Regions from separate parts of the Homo sapiens genome. Here regions 1, 2, 3 and 5 are each linked to region 4. The links come from fine-mapping of genetic effects on gene expression. A gene starts in region 4. Each other region holds a variant in brackets. All regions are shown on one strand. Distances are between the middles of the regions.

What was found. PIP is the estimated chance that this variant, and not a neighbour inherited with it, causes the effect.
Region 1: its variant is fine-mapped to the expression of TMEM43 in monocytes after LPS (Quach 2016, PIP 0.95).
Region 2: its variant is fine-mapped to the expression of TMEM43 in blood mononuclear cells (TOPMed, PIP above 0.99).
Region 3: its variant is fine-mapped to the expression of TMEM43 in whole blood (TOPMed, PIP above 0.99).
Region 5: its variant is fine-mapped to the expression of TMEM43 in testis (GTEx, PIP 0.98).

The regions. Positions count from the first base shown.
Region 1 is chr3:14,002,847-14,007,950 of GRCh38, forward strand. It overlaps the pseudogene TPRXL. Among named protein-coding and RNA genes, the nearest start is that of CHCHD4, 120 kb to the right of the region's middle. The variant G/GT (reference allele first, on the strand shown) is at 2,107.
Region 2 is chr3:14,212,754-14,217,857 of GRCh38, forward strand. No RefSeq gene overlaps it. Among named protein-coding and RNA genes, the nearest start is that of LSM3, 36 kb to the left of the region's middle. RefSeq lists silencers at 3,631-3,680, 3,711-3,790. The variant C/T (reference allele first, on the strand shown) is at 2,710.
Region 3 is chr3:14,169,995-14,175,098 of GRCh38, forward strand. It overlaps XPC (XPC complex subunit, DNA damage recognition and repair factor), which reads right to left. Exons shown (of 16, transcript NM_004628.5): 2 at 2,873-3,068; 3 at 444-556. Among named protein-coding and RNA genes, the nearest start is that of XPC, 6.1 kb to the right of the region's middle. The variant G/T (reference allele first, on the strand shown) is at 2,224.
Region 4 is chr3:14,122,398-14,127,501 of GRCh38, forward strand. TMEM43 (transmembrane protein 43) reads left to right here and starts at 2,655. Exons shown (of 12, transcript NM_024334.3): 1 at 2,655-2,808. The coding sequence starts at 2,797. CHCHD4 (coiled-coil-helix-coiled-coil-helix domain containing 4) reads right to left here and starts at 2,473. Exons shown (of 3, transcript NM_001098502.2): 1 at 2,258-2,473. The coding sequence starts at 2,279. RefSeq lists enhancers at 1-626, 1,230-1,329, 2,098-2,832, 2,700-2,899, 2,833-3,567 and 1 more and silencers at 1,890-1,939, 1,950-2,509.
Region 5 is chr3:14,163,316-14,168,405 of GRCh38, forward strand. It overlaps XPC (XPC complex subunit, DNA damage recognition and repair factor), which reads right to left. Exons shown (of 16, transcript NM_004628.5): 4 at 4,942-5,065; 5 at 3,854-3,938; 6 at 2,113-2,270; 7 at 1,498-1,618. Among named protein-coding and RNA genes, the nearest start is that of XPC, 13 kb to the right of the region's middle. The variant C/T (reference allele first, on the strand shown) is at 2,710.

The DNA of each region.
Region 1 (5,104 bases), 120 kb before region 4:
AAATTGGGTTATCTGTCTACTGTTGTTGAGTTGTAAGATAATTTATTTATTTATTTATTTATTTCTGAGACGGAGTCTCGCTCTGTCGCCCAGGCTGGAGTGCAGTGGCGCTATCTCGGCTTACTTCAAGCTCCACCTCCCAGGTTCACGCCATTCTCCTGCCTCAGCCTCCTGAGTAGCTGGGACTACAGGCGCCCGCCACCACACCCGGCTAATTTTTTGTATTTTTAGTAGAGACGGGGCTTCACCGTGTTAGCCAGGATGGTCTAGATCTCCTGACCTCGTGATCCGCCCGCCTCGTTCTCCCAAAGTGCTGGCATTACAGGCATGAGCCATTGTGCCCAGCCAAGAATTCATTATAAATTCTGAATACTAAGCCCTTATCAGATACATGATTTACAAATATTTTCTCCCATTCTGTGGGTTGTCTGTTTATATTCCTGATAGTGTCCTTTGGTAAACAAGTTTTTGATTTTTTTATGTAAAAATATTTTAAATTCATAATGTGACACAAAATGACTTTTACTATTTCCTTATGAGTTTTATATTATATTATGATAAACCTTCAAAGGAATCCTTGAGAATTTACATGCGTGGAGAATTTGTTTTCCCCTACTCATTAAAGTGGAGCCAATCCTCCATATGGTACAGAGAGGCAGCACATCACTCCTAAAATTTACTTGTACCACTTAAACAGTTTTTAATTTTGATGAAGTCCACTTTATCTGTTCTTCCTTTGGTTTCCCTTTCCTCCTGCCCCCGGCTTAAGATGTCATTTTGAAGAAGCCATTGCCTGGTACAGGAAGATTTATACTTACATGTTCTTCTAAAATGTTTAGGGTTTTATTTATTACATTTAAATCACTAAGCCATATTAATATAATTTTGTATATGGTCTGAGGTAGGTATCTAACTTCACTTATTTGCTTAGGAATATTCAGTTCTAACAACACCATTTGCTGAAAAGATGTTTTCTTACCCATGGAATTGTCTTGACACTTTTATCAAAAATCAGTTGAGCATAGAAGTATGGGTATATTTCCATTTCAGTGATCTGTATGTTTTTCCTTAAAACAGTGCCATACTCTCTCAATGACTGTAGCCTTATAGTAAGTTCTGAAATTGTAATTGTGAATCTTCCAACATCTTACTTTTCACGATTGTTTGGACTATGTTGGGTCCTTTGAATTTCCATATGAATTTTAGATTCAGTTTGTCAAATCTATAAAAAAAAACTGGAATTTTTATAAGGATTGCATTTGAATCTATAGATCAAATTGCAGAATATTGACATTTTAATATTAAGTTATTTAACCAATGAAGGAATGTCTTTCCATTTACTTAGATCTACTTTAATTTATTTCATAATAAAAACACAATGTTTTATTACATTGTACATGTGTTACAAAAAAAAAAAGTAATGTTTTGTAGTTTCTGGGTATGGTTGGATTCTTTAAATTTACTCCTATGCATTTTATTCTATTTTATGGTGTTGTAATTGGATTTTTTTTATCAATTTCTTTTTCAGAATAGTTAATGCTAATGTACAGAAATATAAATGATTTTTGTATGTCTTGTATTCTGCCACCTGGCTGAACTCATATCAGCTTTAATAATTTTTTGGGTTTCTTAGGATTTTCTCTTTTTTTCCCGTTTTTTTTTTTTGAGTTGGGTTTCACTGTGCTGCCCAGGCTGGAATGCAATGGCTATTCACAGGCATGATCATAGCACACTACAGCCTTGAACTCCTGGGCTCAAGCGACCCTCCTGTCTCAGCCTCCTGAGTAGCTGGAACTACAAGTATGTGCCACCATCCCCAGCTATGATTTTCTATATACAAAATCATGTCATCTAAAAATACAGATAATTTTATTTCTTTCTGTCCAATCTGATGACTTATATTTCTTTTCCTTCCCTAATTGCTATGGCTAGAGCTTTCAGTATGATGCTGCTATGTTGAGAGCTGACATCCTTGTCTTGTTCTTGATTTTAGGGGGAATGCTTTCCATCTTTCACCATTAAATATGATGTTAGCTCTACATTTTTTGTAGATGACTTTTATCAGTTTAAGGCAGTTTTCTTTGATTCCTAATTTGTTTTGTGTGG[G/GT]TTTTTTTTTTATAGTCTCACACTGTCGCCAGGCTGGAGTGCAAATGGCACGATATCGGCTCACTGCAACCTTGGCCCTCAGGTTCACGTGATTCTCCTGCCTCAGCCTCCCAAGTAGCTGGGATTACAGGCACACACCACCATGCCTGGCTAATTTTTTGCATTTTTAGTAGAGATGGCTTTTCACTATGTTGACCAGGCTGGTCTCGAACTCCTGACCTTGTGATCTGCCTGCCTTGGCCTCCCAAAGTGCTGGGATTACAGGTGTGAGCCACCACACCCGGACTTTTTTTGAAATTGAGTCTCCCTCTTGTTGCCCGGTCTGGAGTGCAGTGGTGCAATCTCAGCTCACTGCAACCTCCACCTCCAGAGTTCAAGCAATTCTCTTGCCTTAGCCTCCTGAGTAGCTGGAATTACAGATGCCTACCACCACACTTGGCTACTTTTTGTATTTTTAGTAGAGATGGGGTTTCACCATGTTGGCCAGGCTAATCTCGAACTCCTGACCTCAGGTGATCTGCCCACCTCAGGCACCCAAAGTGCTGGAATTACAGGCGTGAGCCACCGCGCCTGGCTGTTTTGTGTTTTTATTATGAAAATATGTTGGATTTTTGTCAAATATTTTTCTGTGTCTATTGAAATGATCATGAGGTTTTTTTTCTTTATGCTTTTAATGTGGTATATTATATTGATTTTTCATATATTTGAACATACCTTACATTCCTGGAATAGATTTCCATTGGTCATGGTGTATAATCCTTGTTATACATTGCTGGTTTCAGTTTGCTATTTTAATTTTTATGATTTTTGCATCTATATAGATTAGAGACATTGATCTGTAGTCTTCTTCTCTTATAATGTCTTTGCCTAGTTTTAGTATCAGGGTAATACTGGCCTCTTAGAATGAGTTTGGAAGTGTTCACCCCTTCTTTCTTCAGAAGAGTTTATGAATATTAGTTTTAAATCTTTTTAAAATGTTGGTTAGAATTCACCTTTGAAACAATCCATTCCTGGGTTGTTTTGTGTGTGTGTGTGTGTGTGTGTGTGTGTGTGTGTGTGTGTGTGTGTGTGTGTGTTATATGTTTTAATTTAAATTCATTTCTTGTTATAGCTCTCTTTAGGCTTTTTATTTTTTCTTGAGTTCACTCTTTCAGTACTTTGTGTTTTTATAGAAATTCCATTCATCTAAGTTATCTAATTTTTGGCATGTGCTTGTCCATAGTATCCCCTTCATAATCCTTTCTATTTCTGTAGACCTTGTAGTGTCAACCCCTCTTTCATCCCTAATCCTAGTAATTTGATTCCTCTCTGTTTTCTCTTGGCCAGTCTAATAAAATTTATCATCTTAAAAATTTCTTCAGAGAAAAATTTTGTGGATTTTTTCTGTTCTCCTCTTTTCTATATTATGTATTTTTGCTCCAATATTATTTCCTTCCTTGTGAATATTTTGTGTTTACTTTGCACTTCTTTTTTCTGCTTTTTTAAGGTGGAAAGGAACACTACTGGTTTGAGATTTATCATTATCTCTTCTTTTTTAATTAGACATTTACAGCTATAAATTTCATCTAAGCTCTGCTTTAACTGCATCTCATATGTTTTGGTATTTTGTGTGTTTTTACATTTCAACCTATATTTTAGATTTTAGATACAGGGGATATATGTGCAAGTTTTAGGTATATTGCACCCAGGTAGTGAGCATAGTACCTAATGTGTAGTTTACCAAGTCATGCCTCTCTCCCTACTTCCCTCCCTCTAGCAGTCCTTAGTGTCTACTCTTCCCATGTTTATGTCCATGTGTGCTCCATGTTTAGCTCCCACTTGTAAGTGAGAATGTGCGGTATTTGGTTTTCTGTTCCTGTGTTAATTTGCTTAGGATTAGGCCCTCCAGCTCCATCTGTGTTGCTGCAAATGACGTAATTTCACTCTCTTTTAAAGCTGTGTAACATTTCATGGTGTATATGCATCACATTTTCTTTATCCAGTCCACCACTGATGGGCACCTAGGTTGATTCCAAGTCTTTGTTGTTGTGAATAGCATGGCAGTTAACGTATGAGTGCATGTGTCTTTTTGGCATAATGATCTGTATTCCTTTGGCTATATACTCAGTAATGGGATTGCTGGGTTGAATGGTAGGTCTGTTTTACGTTCTTTGAGAAATCTCCAAACTGCTTTCCACAGTAACTGAGCTAATTTACATTCCCACCAACAGTTTATAAGCATTCCCTTTTCTCCACATCCACTGGTTTTTGACTTGTTAACAATAGCCATTCTGACTTGTGCGAGATGGTATCTCATTGTGGTTTTGAATTGGATTTCTCTCATGATTAGAGATAATGAGTATTTTTTCATATGTTTGTAGGCCACTTACGTATGGCTTCTTTTGAAACATGTCCGTTCATGTCCTTTGCCCAGTTTTTAATGAGGTTATTTGCATTTTGCTTGATTTGTTAAAATTTCTTATAGATTTTGGATATTAGACCTTTATTGGATACACAGTTTGGAATATTTTCTCCCATTCTGTAGGTTGTCTGTTTACTCTGTTGATAGTTTCTTTTGCTTTGCAGAAGGTCTTTGGTTTAACTAGGTCCCACTTGTCAATTTTTGGTTTTGTTGCAATTGCTTTTGGAGACTTAGACAAAAACTCTTTGCCAAAGCCAATGTCCAGAGTGACATTTCCTAGGTTTTCTTCTAGGATTTTTATAGTTTGAGGTCTTAGATTTAAATCTTTAATCCATCATGAGTTAATTTTTTTATATGGTGAAAGATAAGGATCTTGTTTCATTCTTCTGCATATGGCTAGCCAGATACCCCAGCACCATTTATTGAATGGGGAGTTCTTTCCCTATTGCTTGTTTTTGTCAGCCTTGTAGATCAGATTCTTACAGTTGTGTGGCTTTATTTCTGAGTTTTCTATTCTGTTCCTTTGGTCTGTGTGTCTGATTTTGTACCAGTACCATGCTGTTTGCTTACTGTAGCCTTATAGTGTAGTCTGAAGTT
Region 2 (5,104 bases), 90 kb after region 4:
GCCTCTGTGTGCCTGGCAGGGATGCCTGCCCCAGGCTGGGATGGAGGCATGTCTGCAACCTTGGAGGGGACCCAGGAGGCCAGGGCAGGTGGGGTTGACCTTGTGACTCGGAAGCTGGCTCTGTGTGAAAACACAGACAACTGGATGGGCCTGGGGCCTAGGGGTCAGCAGCCCAGCACCTGTCTATGCTGGTGAACCCGGGAGAGAGTGGAGGGTCAGGTGAGGTGCAGAGAGCAAAAGCGAGGCTTTATTCATGGAGGTATACTGTTGTTCTCAGATGCCCCTGCTCATCCTATACCTCCCTTAAAGGCTCAGCCTTCGGAGAGAAGCCCTCTGAAACCATCTAAACTCCCTTTTCCTCCTCTGGCTACAAGAGTCGGAATTCCCACTACCATTTCTAGAAGGCTGGTTATGTGCCAGGCCCTGGGCCAGACATGCTACAAATAAGATCTGACATTTAGCTTTCCCAACAATCCTGTGACCATGCTGTAACGAGCTAAGGCTCAGAGAGATCAAGTGACTTGTCTAAGCTCACACAGCTGATGAGCAACAGAGCCAGGGTGGCAGCTCTATTAGGATAGAGACTTTTAAAAAAAAAAATTTTAGACAAGGTCTAGCTCTGTGGCCCAGGCTAAAGTGCAGTGGCACGACCACAGCTCAGTGTAGCCTCAAACTCCTGGGCTTAAGCAAGCTTCACGCCTCAGCCTCAACCTCCCAAGTAGCTAGGACTACAGGTATGAACCAACACACCTGGTTAATTTTTAAAATTTTTTGTAGAGATGGGAGCTCACTATGTTGCCCAGGCTGGCCTTGAACTCCTGGACTCAAGTGATCCTCCCACCTCAGCCTCCCAAAGTGCTGAGATTATTGGCGTAAGCCACTGCACCCAGCTGGGATTTCTGACTCCTGTTTGCTGCTGTATTCTCAGTGGTTGGCACGTAGTGGCCACTGAGATACACATTTGTTGAATAAATGTCTGACTCCAAAGCCACACTCTTTGCCCTATACCCCTCTCCTTCCTGGGAACTCTCATGGGAAAATTCAATTTTGAGTGAAAATTGACTTGGAGGACTTCAGTCAAGAGTGAATCCATTAATTTCTCTTCTATGGGTACTTTCTGTACTCACCAAAATAAAGCAATAAAGAAAACTCCCCAAGTAGAGTGTCAATGACATTATGCACATTTTTATAATTAGTAATCAGGGCTGCTGTGGAACTGATTTCTTCCTCAGGAGGATTCACAAAGATGCTTGTTAGCTCATTTTGCTTTTTGTCTTTCCTGCAGACAACACGGACAGCAACAGACCTTGGTTTTTCTGTGTCTGGTCCTTCTCCGAAAGTTCAAAGCCTTTTTCATTTTGCAACACAGAGTCTCTAAGGCACCTTCCTTAAGCCATGAGTTTCTGACTTTATATTCAACCTAGGCTTTGGGGGTGTGGAAAGGGTCATCTGTATATCCTCAGATTTCCAAAAAAGGAATTGCGAGGATGGCTTACTGCATAGCTCCCTGTTGTCCAGCAAGGCCCAAGGCCTGTTTGTTGGGTCATTACCATCCATGCCACACAGCGACTACAATTCTACAATTACAAGTGAACTTCATCTAACTTTACTGACCATGATTTTTGTGGTTGTTCATCATTCAGGACATATAGTTCAGCATCTCACAGAGCCCTAAGTCAAAATAATGCACTTTGAGTTTTAACTTCTCAGAGCTGAAAGGGATCCTACAGATGACCGCATCTAACTTTTCCCAAAGTCTTTTTCACACCACACAGCCACAGGATACTGTACCCGGGAAGGTTTCCTGTGTTGCGGAAGTGTGGGAAGTGCTACGTGGTCTACCTCCCTGTTAGGACCCACAACGCATAAGGGCAGACTGAGGTTTCCAAGAAGTCCTGTAGGAAATATACTTTTGTTTAACTTTGTTCTACACCGTATTCCCAAAATTACTGGCCCAGGAGGGGGAAGCCTTCTGTGTTTTCTTTCTTTTTCAATTTATGGAAAATTCTTTGGGAAATAAAACTCTTATCAGACCCCACCTCTCCACCTCCCAATTTTACAGATGTAGAAAGTGATGATCAGCGGAGGAAAGAGAAAAAGCGGCCAGAAGTTGTCCATAGGCCAGGCCTGGGATATATGTCTTAACTCCAGGTTCACGATTCCTCTCAGCCACACCTCCCAGGTAGGACTGTCAAATGGTTGTTAACAGAGATAGCAGGATAGTAAAGTGCAGATTGACCCAGGTTTTATTGCACCAGGTTTTGCTGATTCTGAAGCCAAGTGTGCTGAAAAAGATAACTGTGGAGCAAGTTCACTTCAAGTCATCCCAGGTGACTGTTTTCACGCCTGCATTTGAGAGCACAGGGGCTGAACATGACCACCCTCCCTCTTCTCCAGCTGTAGATGACTCCTTATAAAGAAGATTTGGGGTAGATGGAAGATGGGAAGGCGGGAAGGGCGGGTGGTCAGCGACAAAAAGGCCATCACACGTCAGCCCGCTGGAGTGGTTGCTTGACTACAGCGATGGTGGCCCCTCACTGAATGGGACAGGATACTGCAATGGTGAAACTCTGGGTTTAAATCCTGGCCCCACAGAACAACTTCATGACCTTAGACAAAAAACGTAATCTCTCAGGGCCCCAGCTTCCCACTGTGAAAATGGGATAATAATGGCACCTACATTTTCCTGGCACTGCTCTCTCAGAGGAG[C/T]TTATGCCATGATTTCTTCATAGGGAACATGGGGTAATAAATACAAAGTTCCTGACATAGAAGGAGGTTTTCTAAAAGACACTGAGAGGCTCACCTGGTGGCTTCCTGTCATAAACCTGAAGTGGCGGTGGGGGTGGCTGGAGCAGGTAGCCCAGGAGGTCCTTTAGGCTGGCATGCAGCAGGAAGAGCAGAGAAGGGGGTAATAATTTGGGTAAAGATAAGGGGGAGATGCTCAGTCCACAATGATGAAGGGCATTTTTTTATTTTCTTGAGACAGGGTCTGGCTCTGTCACCCAGGCTGGAATGCAACAACATAATGATGGCGCACTGCAACCTTGACCTCCTGAGCTTGAGCAATCCTCCAGTTTCAGCATCCCAAGCAGCTGGGCCTACAGATGTGTGCCACCACACCTGGCTAATTGTGTGTGTGTGTGTGTGTGTGTGTGTGTGTGTGTGTACTTTTTGTAGAGACAGGCCTCACTATGTTGCCCAAGCTGGTCTCAAACCCCTGGCCTCAAAAACAATCATCCCTCCTCAGCATCCCAAAGTGCTGGGATAACAGGTGTGAGCCACTGCACTGGGCCAAGGGCATAATTTTTAATGAAAATTAAGGCAAAGAACAGTTATGGGAGACAAATAGATGACAGTATCAAGGACTTTTTCATTAGCAATTAACAACAACAAAATAAAACCTCAAACTGACTTAAGAAAAAAAAAAAGAGCAGCGGGAGCTGACTGTAGACATGGCTGCATTCAGGAGCGCAGGCTATGCCACCAAGAATCGGTCTTGCTCCGTCCCTTGGCTTTGCTCACCCTGCTATTGACTCCGTTCTCAGTCAGATGCTCCCCTCGTTCCCCTCGTGGTGACAGGATGGCGCAGCAGCCCCTAGTGGACATTCTGCAGCTCAGTCACCCACCTCATTCCCGAAACGCCAACCAAAGCCCCAGGATTCATTATGGTTGGCCCAGCCCAGGTCATGTGCCCCTTCCAATTACTGGCACTGATTGGCCGGTTCTGGTGATGAAGCAGACAGGGGGCTGGGACCCTGGTCTCCTGCCTTCTTTGAGTTTCCTGACTTGTCCGTTCGTCTTCAACTGGCCCACTGTTCCCCGGGCTCTTAAAACCACACCTCATTTAGGCCTCTGGCAAGAAATGGCTACATCCTCTACAGCGGTCTTTTGCATTGACTTGGACTCTTCTGTTGGCTTAAAGGCAGATTCAGGACATGCCAGTTCAGATAGAGGGAGACAGACTCGTGTGTGATCCTGGGATGGCAGAGGATTTTTCATCTGATGTGCCAGTTATGGTTAATAGTGGCTGCCCGAGGGCTGTTTTGCAGAGGATGGTAAAGCTAAGTCCAGACTCGGAGGGAAAAGAAGCTGTGATTGATTAATAATGTCTGCCAGGAGCCCCGGAGCAGTCAGTGGTGGCCGACTTGCCGTGTATCGGCCAAACTTCATTGCAGAAAGAGCACGGATCACGGAAAGCAGCAGCCCTGTTCACAGACACCTCCACCTCTCAGCCCTGCGATCACACGCTAGTTACTTAGCTTTACAGGAAACAATTCTCCCATTTGCACAATGAGGACGTGTATCCCAAAGAGTTGCTGAAAGAATCAATAGAGACAATGTATGTAAACTGATCACGATCCTGCACGGAAAACAGAGGCTTTGGCTTTTAACAGAGGTGGAAAGTCATGTTGTTTTTCCAGGGGCCCCACCCCAAAAGTGCTTGTATGGCCTAGGACATCTCAGGAAATTTTTTTTTTCTTTTTTTTCACTTTCTTTCTTTCTTCCTTCCTTCCTTTCTTTCTTTCTTTTTCTTTTCTTTTCTTTTCTTTTTTTTTTTTTTTTTTTTGAGATGGACTCTCGCTCTGTTGCCCAGGCTGGAGTGCAGTGGCTCGATCTCGGCTCACTGCAAGCTCTGCCTCCCCGGTTCACACCATTCTCCTGCCTCAGCCTCGCGAGTAGCTGGGACTACAGGGGCCTGCCGCCACCCCCGGCTAATTTTTTGAATTTTTTTTTAGTAGAGACGGGGTTTCACCGTGTTAGCCGGGATGAGTCTCGATCTCCTGACCTCGCGATCCCCCCGCCTCGGCCTCCCAAAGTGCTGGGATTACGAGCGTGAGCCACAGTGTGCGGCCGGGAAAATTTTCTTGAGTTCGAACTTCTTTTTTTGAAATATGCGCTGTTGACACCTGGCCTTATCCCTTCAGGCCTTCACAGTTCAGGCCGTTTGGCCCCGCTTCTCCTCGTTGACTTTCCCACCAACAGTGCATTGACCAGCACCACCGTCTGAGAACTCACAAAGGATCTGATTTACCTTCCTAGGATTCCGTATCACCTCTTCTTACACCAAGGGACCCAGTGCATGGCAAAAGCTGTATGAAAGTGG
Region 3 (5,104 bases), 48 kb after region 4:
CAGCCTATACTGTGAATGGCTCACACTAAACATTCAGTGTTTACAGAGTGTTACCAATGAGAAAACTCAGTTCAGAGAGGTGAAGTTACTTGCTCAAGATTAAATTACTCACTCACACTGCCACCTAAGTGGCAAAGTTGAGCACTGAACCCAATTCTAACTACTTTCAAAGCCTGTGCTCCTTCTCCTAAATAGTGCTGCCTCTCTATTTATATCTACCCCATTGACAGTCACCAGAGGAAGAGAGTAAACAGCCTTCTTTGGTAACTTGGCCATGAGTTTTTCCATATATATCAAAGCAAGTCCCTAGTACAACCTTATCTGTGGTCTAATTAGCTCAAAAGAAAACAAAAGGATTGCAATTAGTGATCTGACTCCAAACAGAATCAAACAAAAAAACAAACAGAACCAAACAGTTCTGAAAACAAAGAAAGATGTTTCACCTTCAACCTCTTCCCAATCATTTTCACTTTCTTCCTCTTCTTCATTGCTGTCTTCATTCATGGTAGCCCCTCTCTTCAGATGGTGTGCCTTCTTGAGGTCACTTGGAAAGTCCCTGTGTAAAGACCACAGGAAGGAAGATGAAGAAGACTCAGACATCCTAGTGTTCCATTCAAGCTAAATGGAATTTTTAAAACCCCTCCTATTTATTGAGAATCTGTTGCAACTATTTAAAGATGATTAGTAAGCTCTGAGCCTCACTTCCTCCATCAACATGTGTTCCAAATCTCATCAAGATGTGCTCTGATCATCTGTCTAATTACTACCAGATGTGCTGTTAAAAAACCTACAATCTAGATCGTGTGAAAGAAAACATAGCTGTGCCTGGACATGACAAGGAAAAATTAGAAGACACCAAAATAATAATGAGTTCCAGAACTGTGATATCTGTGTGATATATGTGCAGTTGGAGGCCAGAAAGAACAGAATAAAATCTCCATTTATATATCCTACTATAAGCCTACTCAGACTTCTTTTCCATCTTTAAGAAATATGATGTAAGGAGACTGAAATTCATAGCATTCTAACTTCAAGCAGGGATGTAACTACACATAGGTGAGTCATAAATAACAAGAGACATAGACAGCTAGCTAGCTAAGTAGATAATAACATAGATAAGTAGCTGGCTAAACAATGGCTCAAGGCTAAGTACTTGCTGATACGTAATATATTTCTGCAAATTCATATATAAAATGTGTCTAGAGTATCCAGTTACTTTTAACTTGTGTAAACTTTGGCACTTGGTACCAAGTGAGAATATTATCTAGGATTTTGGTATAAACATTTAAAATAACCAATCATCAATCTTGAGCTCTAATAATACACTCTTTTTTTAGAGTACCACTTTCTCTCAAAACACCAGCAATAAAAATTTCCCCTTAGAATGAACATAGCAGAAATGACCACAGTCAATGCTCAGGGGAGAGGGAAAGGGGGACCCAGAGCTTTCCTTGGCAGTATCGTGGCCTATCTCTATGTATATGTCTCTGGAGATAGAATTCAACTAGTGAGGGGAGGCAACTGGAAAGCAGTAAGTTCAGAGGTATTCTTCAGAAAAGTCTAGGGAAGGCCAGGCGCAATGGCTCACGCCTGTAAGCCCAGCACTTTGGGAGGCTGAGCAGGGCAGATCACCTGAGGTCAGGAGTTCGACACCAACATGGTGGAACCCTGTTTCTACTAAAAATACAAAAATTAGCTGGGCGTGGTGGTGGGCACCTACAGTCCCAGCTACTCAGGAGGCTCACTTGAACCTGGGAGGCGGAGGTTGCAGTGAGCCAAGATTGCATCACTAGACTCCAGCCTGGGCAACAGAGCGAGACTCCATTAAGGACGGGACCGGGATGGGGACGGGACGGGGCGGGACGGGAAGGGAAGTCTAGAGAAAAGGAGAAGAGATGGATCATGGCGGAAAATCATCATGCTGTCCCGTGTCCCTTCCTGTGCCCTCTACTGGACTACTCTCCCATCCCAGGACTAGAGGCTGCTGGAAAAGCTGATACTGGCAGTGAGGATTTGTTTATGAAGCAAATGAAAAACTATCCCTCTGTTCTTCCTCTTCTCCCCACCCCTCAACTTTCTTAGGAGGCAGAAAATCAAGTGTTCCCTGGGCTCATAATCACTGTTCACAACATATTAATATAAATGCTCATTCATTGCAAAAATACTTGTTCAGTTTCTGCCAAATAAAAGGGCCTGCAATGGATGCTACAGGGCATATGAAAA[G/T]GAACCCCACATGGTTCCAGCCCTCTGAGAGGTCACAGGGTAGTAAGCCTGGGTATGTGGCATGGTAACAATAACTGGCAGACATATCACACTCCCTAGAAGCGCTACAGGAAGTCAGAGGAGAGAAGGGGGAAGAATCAGTGAAGCCTCTGGAGTAGGTGGTTTCAGATCTGCATCTTCAAGATGGAAGCCAGCAAGCACTCCAGGTAGAGGGAATACCATGAGCACAATGCAGGTGTAGAAAGTAGGAGAATGTGTTCAGTGAATGATGAGAAGCTCAGGTGGGCCGGAGAAGAGCGTGCTTGAGGACAGTAGTATGAGATAAAGCTGGAATGGCAGGTAAATATTTTGTATACATCTAATATTTTTGTGTAGTAGAAAGAGCACTGGACCAGGAGTCAGAAGACCTGGGTTCTCCTGCTTTTGCCACTGTCCAGCTGTGGAAGCATGAATAAATCACTTACTGCATGCTGTCACTGTTCTTATCTGAAAAGTTTCCAGCTCTTACCGGTCTGAGTTGTACCTAGAAGAATTTAAAGATCCAATCTTCCATGGACCCCAGTGACAAGTAAGAATAGAGGTTTTCATTATTCACAATTCTCTGATGAGAAAAATCAAGACCCGAGACAAAGCTTTGCAGACATCTCACCTGAGGTCATCCCCATCGCTGAGGGCTTCATCCTTTATAACCTTGAGGTTTTCAGATTTAACAGTCACCTTGGCCACTTTCTTTTTTGCTGGACCATCTGCTGAACCCCCAGGATGACTGCAGCCTCTTTTCCTCTTTCCTTGTGAAACTTTGGAGAGAAGGCTCTTCTTTGGGGGTTTCTCATCTTCAAAGGCATCTAGGTGACAACACAGAACATAAGGTGAGGGGTGGAAGGAAAGGTGGAGGCAGTGCAGCTTATGGGCAGGGGCATAAAACGGCTCTATGACCTGTCTCCAAACCCCATCTCCATCACTGGTTCACCATCCCCTGTCTGGTCAGCAACCAGCTCTCAGCTTCTTCCCACCTGCGGCTAGTCTATATTCACAGTAAAAACCATCTTCCTTTATCAGCACTTTACTTCTCCTATGACTACAGAAAATACCATAGGACTCAAATAAAACCTAACTTCCAGATCTTAAATGTCAGCTAACCTCCTGCCAGGAAAATACAACATCCATTAATTAGCACCTTATTTATTATCTGCCAAAATTAATTGTCTTAGGGATAATGTACTCCTAAGTAAAATGTTAAGTACATAAACATGTCCAAGTTTTACCACAACATCATTACTATTAATCTACATTTCTGCCAACCTTCAAGACCAAACTGCTCAAAACACATACTGCTCTGAAACCTTTCCAATGTAACCCAAATGGCACTCATATACCAACCACCTCAGCAAACTTACAGTTGGAAAAAGACAGCAATAATTCAAAAGTATTTTCTTAAAGTAATTATTTTTTTGTTAAAGGGAAATAAAAAATGCATAAGCTGCTGGTTTTAGTCAAATTGGGGTATCTAAAATTATGGTTTATTTACATATAATAATTATATTAATAGATTAGTTTTAACAAATAATATGGCAGGGAAGGATAGTTTTCTATTTTGCAAATATATTCACACAAATTATCTTGAATCTGAAATAAATCTTTTGTCTTTGCATGACTCTGCTTCAATTAATTTTAGAAAATAAAAATACTCTACCTTTTATTGAGGTTCCAAAAGGGATTGCAATATTAACCTAAAATATAAAATTATTTAATAATTCAGTCTTTTCATTGTTTGTCTTGCTGACTCTCTGGATGGGTATTTATATTCCACAAGAATATACTTTTGCATGAGGGAAAAAAGACTCTCCCTTCTGATCTAAATGAAATCATGATTAAATGTTAATAAAATTCATAACAAAGGAGCATTTATTTTAATGTTAGATCATTGATTCCGTTGTTTCTTTAAATGTTTTATAAAAAAGGAATTTATGCATTCCCATTTTTAAACATTGTATGGAAACCAAAAAATAAGGAAAAATTTTGAAGTACAAATTATTTCAAAATTAATTTTTTCAAATCTGAGAACAGATTGCCTACTCCAAGGCCAGAGGTTGCATAAAGCTTAAGATTTGACAGTTTGAGGAGGGTGCCCCTAAAATCAAGATTTCTGGATCTTACAATGGTAGTTAGCCCTCTAATAATAGGCAAAGATGCTAAACACTTCAATTTCTACTAATCTAAAAAAATGCACGTAGGAGGATACTTCAGAGGCATCACAAACTTTTCTAGTTGGTTAAAAAGCACAGCTTTTATTTCCGTTTGAAGAGAAAGGTAGAGGAGTTAAAAGGGAAAGGGGGATAAAGGAAACACAAAAACTCTGAATCAAAAGGATGTTCATAGTATTCAAAAGCATCTAACAATAATCTGAATGTCCAACCATGAGATAATTGTTAAGTAACTTATGGCAGAGCCACACAACAAAATATAATTGAGTCATCCTTTAAGATAAAGAAAAACGATATATGATGTAATGTTACTCATGCAAAGTTGATTTTACAGTATGCTTTCTGCTATATAAAAAACAGACTAGAAGGAAACAGACCACTATTTCATGGTGGCTATTTCTGGATGGCAGAAATATGGGTGACTTTCTGTTCTCTGCTATTTTTTGGTCCCTAAGCATCTAGAGACTCTTTTCCAGGACTCTCCAAAATCTTGAGTTATCTAATATGCCTAACCAGACTCCTTGAGTTCAGTGTTCTTTCAGTAGGGCAGGAATTACCACTGTGGTCTGCTTGCCCATCTACTGGGATTTAATAAGAACACCGGAGTAAACCTTCCAGCAGCAACTCATAGCACTCAGAATAAAATTCCAACTCCTTAGCTTGGTATCCAAGCTCAG
Region 4 (5,104 bases):
ATAATTGTTGACTGAACAGGAGTTGGCAGGCTCTGCATTAGAAAGAGGAAACTAAGAAAGAAACACTATGGTGCTGACACAGGAGAAGTGTGGCTAGCCCAAGGCCCAGGTGCGAGGCTGAGAGCCCTTGAATGCCAAACCAACGAGTTTAACCTGAAGGCTGGGTAGCAGGTGGACCCCTGAAATAAACTTGTACAGGCAAGTGATTCACTCAGAACAGAGGGCAGGTAAATGCATGATTCAATAAAGATGTGGGCACCCATTGTACACCAAGCCCTGTGCTAGATGCTGGGGATTCCACAGCCCATCTGATGCTCTCAGCTTAGTGCGAGAAGACAGGCAGGAAGTAAGATGGCAAAAAATAAAAAAGGTCATTTCAGACAGTTCAGGATGTGAAAGACACAAAGGGTCAGGAGGTGATATTGGAGCTAAATGTTAAAGGATGAGGAGTCAGCCACGGAAGAGCTGAAGGCAGGATATACCAAACCAAGGGAATAGCCAAGAGGCTAGAGGCTGGGCAGCAAAAGGGTGGGAAGAGACCAGGCTGGAAAGGCAGACAGGGCCAGATCACATAAGCTCTGATACAGTAAGCAGTTTGGGATCATTTTTTAAAAATCCTATGGGAAGCATAAAGGATCAGTGGGGGGCGGAGGGGGGGAAGTTAGGGACTTCTTACGGGGACAGTGGTATGCACAAGATAAATACTAAGGAAGGCCTATAAGTGAGTGCTTTCAATTCTCACTCCTCTCCGAACTAAGAGAGATCTTTGAAGCAGGAAAAGATAGGGCTCCATGTTTTGGAGGCAGATGGACCTAGCCTCCCCTTTCCAGAGAAAACTGCCTCCTGTAAATCCTCAAAGAGGAGGGTCTTGTTTATCAGCACAGCCTCATTATACCCAAAGGCTCAAAAATTATTTGCTAAATGAAGTAAATTAGAGAAAGACTCGAAATTAAAAACAAGAGTGGTGAGGGCAGAGGACTTTTGCTTATGGCACACATTAAGTAGTAATCAGCGGAAATATAATAGTACTCATTAAAGAGTGAGTCTTATGGCTTTACGACCCAGAGGAGGAGAGGTTCTAGAAGCAGACAGCGCCACCAGGGAAAAGGCTCAGAATTTTAGGCTGAGCTAGTCTCCTAACTGGATGTGTAACTACAGGTAGGCCACCTCCTTCTCTGGGCTTCAGATTGCTTGAATTAACTGACGGAGCTGGAGTATTCACCAAAGAATTTCTGGGGGACTTCCAACTCTCTCTGTAGTTTTATAACCATCCATCCCCCTTCTCTGGCGCAGAGAAGGTGCTTCATGAGTATTTGCCGTATCAATGAAGCCCAACATCTCATTTTACAACACTGGATACCAGGGCCTGGAGGGGTTAGGTGGGAGCTCAGGGCCAAGGAGCCAGTTTGTGGCAGTGTGTGGGGAGGCCCTCCGACCTGTGGCTCGGGTACTTCTGAGCTCTTGGGTAGAGTAACATCAAGGAAGCAGTAGGTGGTCGGAGCTCAACTTTGGGGTGGGAGGTAGGCAGGGTTCTCCCTGCAATCCACTGGGCACTAGATTGGATAAGGCTCTTCTGGGGTCACAATGCCCAGGCTCAAACCCCAGCTCCACGATTTGCTGGCTGAGTGGCTTTAGCCATGTCTCCTGTGTCTAACTTTACTCTTCAGTAAAATGTGACCAACAACAGAGCCTGACTTACAAAGGTCGCAGCGAGATCTGTGAGACAAGCCAGGCAAGTTTCCTTGAACAGTGCCTGACAGGTAGCAGGGGGCTCAAAAACATTCCCGTTAGTGGAACTCCTAGCACTCCAGCACAGCACACGCTACCCCGAGTGGCAACTTTTCGGGACGCGCCTTTTAAAGGCGCGTGCAAAATGTAAACACGTGGGGTATGGCAGGAGCGGTAGTGATAATTAACCACCATACATTCCCAGTTTCGAGCCACACGCAACGTGCTCGGCACTTCCCGTGCCCCAACCGGACCTAGTTTACGACTTCCTACGCACAGGCCCCTCTGAGGTCAGGGTTCGGGCTTCACTGTGACCTTGGACCAGCCCCGTTCCCCCCAGAGCTTCGGTTTTCTCATCCGCAAAACAGGAGTAGCGACCCCCCAGCCGGCCCGCCTCCGAGTGTCCCAGGGTGGGCACCTGGGCCGCGCCTCAGGTGGCCCGCGCCCGGCGTGGTCGCGGGGCGCCGGGGCCCGCGTGTCTCCCGCAGGCCCTCGTAGGCCGGTCTCCGTGGCAGCCCGCCCTCCCTACCTTCCTGCCGGCAATAGGACATGGCTGCAGCCCGTCCCTGAGACCTTGCAGAAGCGGCGGTGGCGGCAGCTGCACCTTTACGCCGTGACCTCCCTCTCCTCTGGCAGGGCGGGCTCCTCCGAAGCCCGCGCGGACCCGCCCCCTCCCAGGCCTGCCCGCCGCGCGCCTGCCTCGGCGCCCTCGCAACCGCGGCCAGGCCAACCTCAGCCGGAAACTACATTTCCCAGCAGGTCGCGCGCTCCTCGACAGCTCTCCAGGCAGTAGAAACTACATTTCCCCGAAAGCTTTGCAGTGCGCAGGCGCATCAATGAGGTACTGCAATGTCCCGGACCGTATAGTTTCCAGGACGTCTCGCCGCGCGCATGCGCAGAAACACTGGGCACAGGGGGAGGTAACTGCAGTAAGTCCCGCTTGGCCCTGGAGTCCACGCGGATTTTCGAAGCTGGGGCTGGCAAGAGGCCGCTGGACACCACGCTCCAGTCGTCAGCCCACTTCCTAGCTGAACAGCGCGAGGCGGCGGCAGCGAGCCGGGTCCCACCATGGCCGCGAATGTGAGTATCCCCGGGCCAGCCGGGCCACACCCAGGCTTCCCCGTCGCCCTGGGGCTTTTCCCCGGGGTCCTCTAGGTCCATTTCGCCGCCTGGAGCTCCTCCGTGCGGCTAGGCCCGCATCTCCCTCTGCTCGCCGTGTCTGTGCCTTCGCCAGCTCATCCCTCTGCTCATCTCGCGGCCTGTCCAGGCTTCTTTTGTCCGTGTTCCTTGGCTCGCCTCGTCCTCGGCGTTCGTGCGGAGGCGGACTCGGAGGTGTTGCTCCCGTACTGGGATCTGCTTGTACGCCTCTCCGCGGCCCCTCCTTGCATTCCCAGTTCCCTCCTGTACCTTGGGGCCCTGAAACTTGCGCATTATGAGAGCTGGACGCGACCTCAGAGAGGGCGCCAGTCCCTTGGGAGGGAGGAAGGCGATCCAGCCCAAGTGGAGCTGTCCAGCAATGGACAGACAGGGCTGTCCAGGCGGGCAGAGAGCTCTCCGCCCTAGGGAGTCTCTGTAAACCGAGTCTGTGATGCTCCAAAAAGCTTAGGCTGGGCTGGGAGCGAAGGAGTTGGGGGAGAGGGAGCATTTCTCTACTGTCGGGGCCCCTCCTCCCCCTAGCAAGGATTTGGTTGGAGGAGGCCTGGCTGAGGGCTGTTCCCTCAAGGCCTCTTCTCCCTGCAACTAGCCTTTCTCGGGAAACTATTTAAGCCCAACATTCATTCAACAAGCAGCGCCTCCTACCAGGGCGCTGGGTGTGGGAGAAGCTGGTGACTCACCTCTCCCCTCCTCTGTGAAAGTGCTTCTAGGGCCCGCTTAGGAGCCCAGCCAGCCCCAGACACACCCTCCCTCCTGCTTTGGTAGAGTGTCCTAGCAGCTCTCCCCTTGCCTGTCACACCCTATTTCCAGACACCGCCTCTGTCCCCAAGCGTCCTCTCTGCCTCCCACACCCCTTGAGAGGCCAGGGTGTGCATCACCCACAGCCCTAGTACACTTTGTCTCGGGTTAGTATCATCCACACTCCCAGGACATTTCGGGCCCACAGGAGGGTTAGAAGCCTTGAATGTTGTACCTAGAAAAGCCTCAGAGGTATTCGGAGAGACTCAGGCTCGGCCAGGCGAGAGGGCAGTCAGGAGACCAGCCTGTCTGTAGTATGTGGACTCTTTGTCTGCTCCCATCACTACCACCACCATATTTTACAGATGGGGAACTTCCCTAGCAGGGGAAGGCACTTGCCCAAGCTCTCGTGGCCGGCTTGGCATGCTGTGACACGGAAATATGCTGAAAAGGGCAGGCTTTGGAGTTAGGGAGACCTGGGGGCAATCCAGATTCTTCCACCCAGTAGCTGTGTGGCTTTCATCTCTCCAGGTTTATGTAGCCTCATGGATCAGTTACTGTGATATTTAAGGGAGACTGCTTAGCACAGTGCCTGATGTGTGGTAGGTACTTAATACTTGAAAACAAGCCTGTCCTTGCAGGGTAGCACAAATGGTCCCAGTGGATAGAGATCATCTTGGGTACATTGAGACCTGACCCCTCACCAAGGAATATACATGCATTTGAGTATTCTCTGCTGCCAAGCATTTTTTGATTCATCCAGTAGCTGAGTACACATTTACAGCAGCCACTAGGCTGGGTGAGGAAGAAGATAGCGGGATGGAGCAGGGAGGCAACAAAATTCTCAATCAGTACAGCAGCAGCAGTACCTGTGGTGAAGGTACTATTCCCCTCTCCACTTTATAAGTGAGTAAACAGAATCAGAGAGGTAGAGCAATTTACCCAGGCTTACACAGCAAGCGATTGGTGAACCTAGGCATCAAATCCAGTTCTGTCCATTTCCAGGGCCTATGTGTCAGCCTCTGTTCCCACCACTCATTGCTCATTTCTTCTAAGTCCTGAGTGCTAGGACTGGGAGGGGATGTGTCACTGGGGATGTCCGTCTGTGTGTGCGTGTGTGTGTGTGTTTATATAATGTGTGTATACATGTAATACATACTATATGTATATATAAATATGTGTGGATATATAGATCCTTTATGATCCTCCATGTTTACTGGGAATTTTGGTTCAGAATGTGGGCTGGGTTTGTCATGTCACTGCCCACCTCACCCCTCCCCTAGCCTGAGGGGCACCCTCCTGTACCTCTCTTCCTTCCCTCCAAGGCCGTCTTTGAGCCCCTTATCTTGATGCTGGCTGAGGGGAGGCCCAAGAGGAAGACACGCCTTATTTTCCTATTGCTGCCTGCAGCTGGCTCCCAACATTCAGCTCACATTGTAGCCCAAGAGATGGGGAGCACAGACTGGAATGAGTAATGGGAGAG
Region 5 (5,090 bases), 41 kb after region 4:
ACACTCTTCACAACAGCCACAAGGTGGAAACTAACTAAATGTCTGCCAATGGATAAATGGATAGAGAAAATGTATAAACATGTAATGGAATATTATTCAGCTATAAATATTAATGAAATACTGATACATGCTAAAATGCAGATGAATCTTGAAAACATTATACTAAGCAAAAGACAGGCAGAAAAGGCCACATAGTGTATAATTTCTTTTATACTAAATATCCTAAATAGGTAAATCCACAGAGACACAAGACAGATTGGTGGTTGCCACGAGCAGGGACAGGGGGGTAACAATGAGGAGTTTAATGCGTATATACAGGGTTTCCCTTGGGGGTGACAAAAACATTTTGGAAATAGAGGTGGTAGTTGCACAACATTGTAAATGTACTAAATGGTCACTGAATTGTACCCCCTCTTTAAAAGCTGTGTGATCCTATTTTGCTTAAACAAATAAACAAAACAAATACATACGTACACACATACACAGGAACAAAGTCTGGGAGGACAATACTAAAATATTAATGAGTTACCAGCCTGGCCAACAGGGTGAAGGGTGAAACCCCATCTCTACTAAAAATACAAAAATCAGCCAGGCATGGTGGTGGGCACCTGTAATCCCAGCTACTCGCGAGGCTGAGGCATGAGAATCACTTGAACCCAGGAGGTGGAGGTTGCAGTGAGCTGAGATTGCACCACTGCACTCCAGCCTAGGCGGCAGAGAGAGACTCTGTCTCAAAAAACAAAAACAAACAAACAAAAAAATTGGCAGCACATTATAACATAATTATCAGCCTTGCCAAATATCTTAGACTTGTTAAAGCCAACACGGAAGAAGAGAACTAAAGATGTCAACCATCTTTTTCTCCAGAGAATCTGGGACTCCCAGATTGAACTGTATGGATTAATAGGAATCTTCTAGGGATAAAACCACATTTCCATCTCTGTTTTTGTTTTATTCAGACAGAGCCTTACCTACAGGTGCCTGTAGGCATTTGATAAAGCCTGCCTGTCCCTGGAGCACTCTGCCATCACGATTCCTTTTTATGGACAGAACCCTCCTCACTGCACTGCTGCCTGCCAGTGTCAACACCCAAATGTGAGATACAAAAACACATTCTCAAGGACTTCAGCATCCAATTTGAAAAAACATTTCCTTGGGACTTCTGAAGACAAAATTGGAAAAATTAATGAAAATATTTCTAGCACATCTGACCAAAAACTACGGGCTTTTTGGTACACCACAACTAGAGGCGATAGGGAGGAAAGCATACAGGCCCTCCACTCAGACTCTGATCCCAATCTCGATTCTCAGGCTCACCAAGGAAAAGACCTTAGAGGCATCATGTAGCTATTCTGGGCTTCAGCAGCTATCAACGTCATTATGAGGACTGAATAAGGTAGTGTCGGTAACACACCTGGAATGGCATCTGGCACATGGCTGCCATTATCATTAGTTAACAGTACTGATAAAAAACAGTGATCCGGGAGGATCACTTACATGGACCAATTCCTCATCATCTCGAGCAGAGTAAATAGCAAATCTCCTTTCCAATGTAGTCTGCAGGTTATCTTGTTCACTGGCTGAAAGTTCTGCATTAACTGTAAATGTTCCAATGAACCTGGGGAGAAAGCAGGCATTCCTTGTGTCAGAGGTCAGGGCAAAGGGGAATTTTCATTTCCAGCCAAGAAAATAAAAAGAGGGAGTGAATCGTGAGACCCGCCTGCCTCTGTCCTACTTTCCCCAGCCCGTCTAGCTAACTCCTATCATCACTGCAGACCCAGCTCAGACTTTACCTCCTTGGGGAGCCTTCCCAGACCTCCCAGCTGAGAAAAGCGCCCCTGCTATGTGAGCCTGCAGTCCCCAGAACACCCCTTCCAGGGCACTCCTCATGCCATCCTGTAATTACCTGGTATGTATTTGTCTCCCCACCAGTCTGGCAGCTCTACCAGGGCAAGATCATACCTGGCATTTCTCTATCTTCAATGCCATGCCCACCACCTGATACATAGTTACCGCCTCAGGGAAGGTCTGTGGAAGTGACCTGAACCCAGCCTCTGAGAGAAACACAAATCCTACACTCCCCAGCTCTGCAGGACAAGCGGAGGGCCTTACCACTTCACCAGGTTTGAGAGGTAGTAGGTGTCCACATCTCGAGGCAGCACTCTGGTAAAGCGGGCTGGGATGATGGACAGGCCAATAGCATGCAGATCTGGCTGGCTGCAGATGTTATTTCGATAGAAGCCATTTGCTAGCAGGCAGAGAAGGTGAACCTGTGAAGAGGAAAGGAGGAAGGGGCAGCATGGAAGGAAGGCCGGACACCAGGAGGAATTTTTGCTGCCAAAGTCAAGACATGCTGTGGACAAGAAATATGTGTTGCCATTTCTACATATAAGAAAGTAAAAACACTAGCATTGGCCACTTCCCAAGCTTGTCTTTGACCCTCTCTTTTTCTCTCTGTATACTCATTCCTTCAAAGGAATCATCAAACCTCAAAGCTTCAAAATACAAATTGCTTTGTTTTCAAAATACAAACTGTTTTTGTTTTGGTCTTGTCTTTCAGAGATACATACTGAAAGATTTCTGGATGAAATGCTGCCATGTCTGGGGTTTGCTCCACGAGATCAGAAGAAAAGGCAAGTGGAGTGGAGCTGGAGAGACTGCTGGAAGCCTGTGGAAGCCGGCGGGATGCACCCCACTGGGCTCACTGGG[C/T]TGCTCTCGCCACCTCTCTGGGTGTTTGAGCCCAACCTTCTCTGTCACAGGCTCCACATCTTTGCCCTTCCTCTGACCCCAAAACCCACCCTTCATCCACCTACTGAAATGATTATATGACCTCTTCACCTCTTTTCACATACTGCTTTGTGTCATTTTCCCTTCAACATTGGCTTCCTCCCCCCCGACTAACAGCCTCCCTATTTTAATCAATAGTGCTGCCTCTCTCTCCTCACTCAGGCCTCAAACCTGAGAGTCATCTTCCCTTTCTTTCACCTCCAGCACCCAACAAGAGGTGAAAGGCACACAGCTGTCTCGTTTCGTGCCCCAGGCCTGGGTGAGGGAGGCGACCCCTCTCTAACCTCGTCACCATCCTTGCACCTCTAGATTTCTGCAGTAGCTGCACACAAAGCAACTCACCCATCCCATCACTATCCTCTCAGGCAGCCCACCATCCATCAAAGGGAAACCAAAGCCCACCCTCCCTTCACCCCCACCCCCCAACACCTACATACTCCACACACGCAGGTGAGCTGGGCACCTCGCCGTCCCCTCCACAACTTGGCTAGAGTCTTCAACTTTTTCTCCTAGACCTGGCTCTAATCCTTTCCCCTACATAAAGCCTTCCCCAGCTCCACAGAGCCACGCTGATCTCTTTCACTGTTCCAGGCATAGCCTTGAGTTTCTCTGTTTGGAAGTCCTTGTTCCATCTAGAGATCAGATACTCCTCAATTGTAGGAAATAAGCTTTATCCAAGTCTCTATCCCCACCATGCCAAGCACCTTGCTAGGTGTGTGCAAGTGTTCAATAACTGTCAGCTAAAGTCAAAAGCCAGTGCCTGCAGCTGGGATTAGAATTAATGACATTAAATGGCTGAAAGGAGAGATGGAAGGCAAGTGCTCTTTATTTAGCCTCTGCTGCATGCCAGGCATTGTGCTGCAAGTTACCTTACCTATAATACACAACCACCCTCCAAGACAGACACTATTACTACCCCCACCTCCCAGATGAGGATGCAAAGGCTCAGAGAGAGTAAGAAACTTGCCATGGCCACAGAGCAGCAAAGCCAGAAATAAAGCCTCGGTGAGCACAAGCTCTTTGCACCGACAAGGAAAAGTCCTTCCCCATCATTCCTTGCCCTTACCTTGTGTGTGTCCTCATGGACCCCTTTATTGAAACGTTTCATCGCCCTCCGAAGATATGTCTCAAACTCCAGTTTTATCTTTTCACTGCAACAAATAGTGAAAAATCTGGGAATGAAGGGGGGAACTGAAACCAGACTCCACTCCCCCAGGCAATTCCTTCTCCTCGGATGACAGTGAATCACTCTCCCTGTTTCCCTACACAAGGCTGTGCTACTCAAGTCCGTCTGCAAGCCAGCTATTTCCTGCAGGCTCTTTGGCTCCTTCTCACCAGCAAACCTCGGCCTGGGACATTCTGTACCCAGACAACCCTCCTCTCAACCAGCAGCAGATCACACCTCACCTACATGCCTCAAAGCTCACTTCTTCCAGGAAGTCTTCTCTGGCTGTCCAACTCTTCCGACTACTGACTCTCTCCTTAGCAACCATTACCTTTATTAATGTTAAATTAACACACCATCATTTATGTGACACTGTTCTAGTGTAAAATCTCTTTTTCAGTCTGTATCCCATTAATCTTCAAGACAACTTGACACTTCTTGAATGATTTGTATTATCTCCCTCTTCTGTGCCTAGTAATGTGCCCATCGCACATTGGAATTCCCAAGCCATCAGAGGCTGCAGAGGTACTCCGGGATGCTGGGAAGGATAGGGGCTCCCTACCACGGCGGGCACTGCCTCAAGTCCTGCAGCATGACATGGTGAGGAAAATGTGAATGCCAAGTCAATGAGAAGGATTAGGTCTCAGCTCTTCCATTACTGGCTGAGTGACTCTTGAAACGTTACTTAGCGTCTGAACGTTACTTAGCTCCTCATTCACAACACTGTTCTAAGGATTAGGTAAGATAACGGATGACCTGCTCAATCCTTGGCACACAGGAGTTCCCTCTCCTCATCCCTCACCAGCCCCAGCCAGGACACGAAGGTGTCTCATTCAAGTCTCTAAAGGTAAATCAGGTTCCTGACCCAAGGTTCTCGACCACTTTGATACTCAGTCCTGGTCCCCTACAAGTTTCTCCAAAGTCCTCCTAAGCAGCAGCTGTTGCCTACTGCATGTGACAGGAGCCTAGAAGCAAGGGCCTAAGCTTACCTTCTTTCTCTTGTCTTCGCCTGCTCTGGCGTTTCAATCTCTATCTCCACTGGCTTCACAGGCAGAAGAGATCGAGAGAAGGCTGTACTTTCTCTCACGTCACCCAGCACAGGCTCACTAAGTTCTATCAACAAGCATTTTTAAAAATC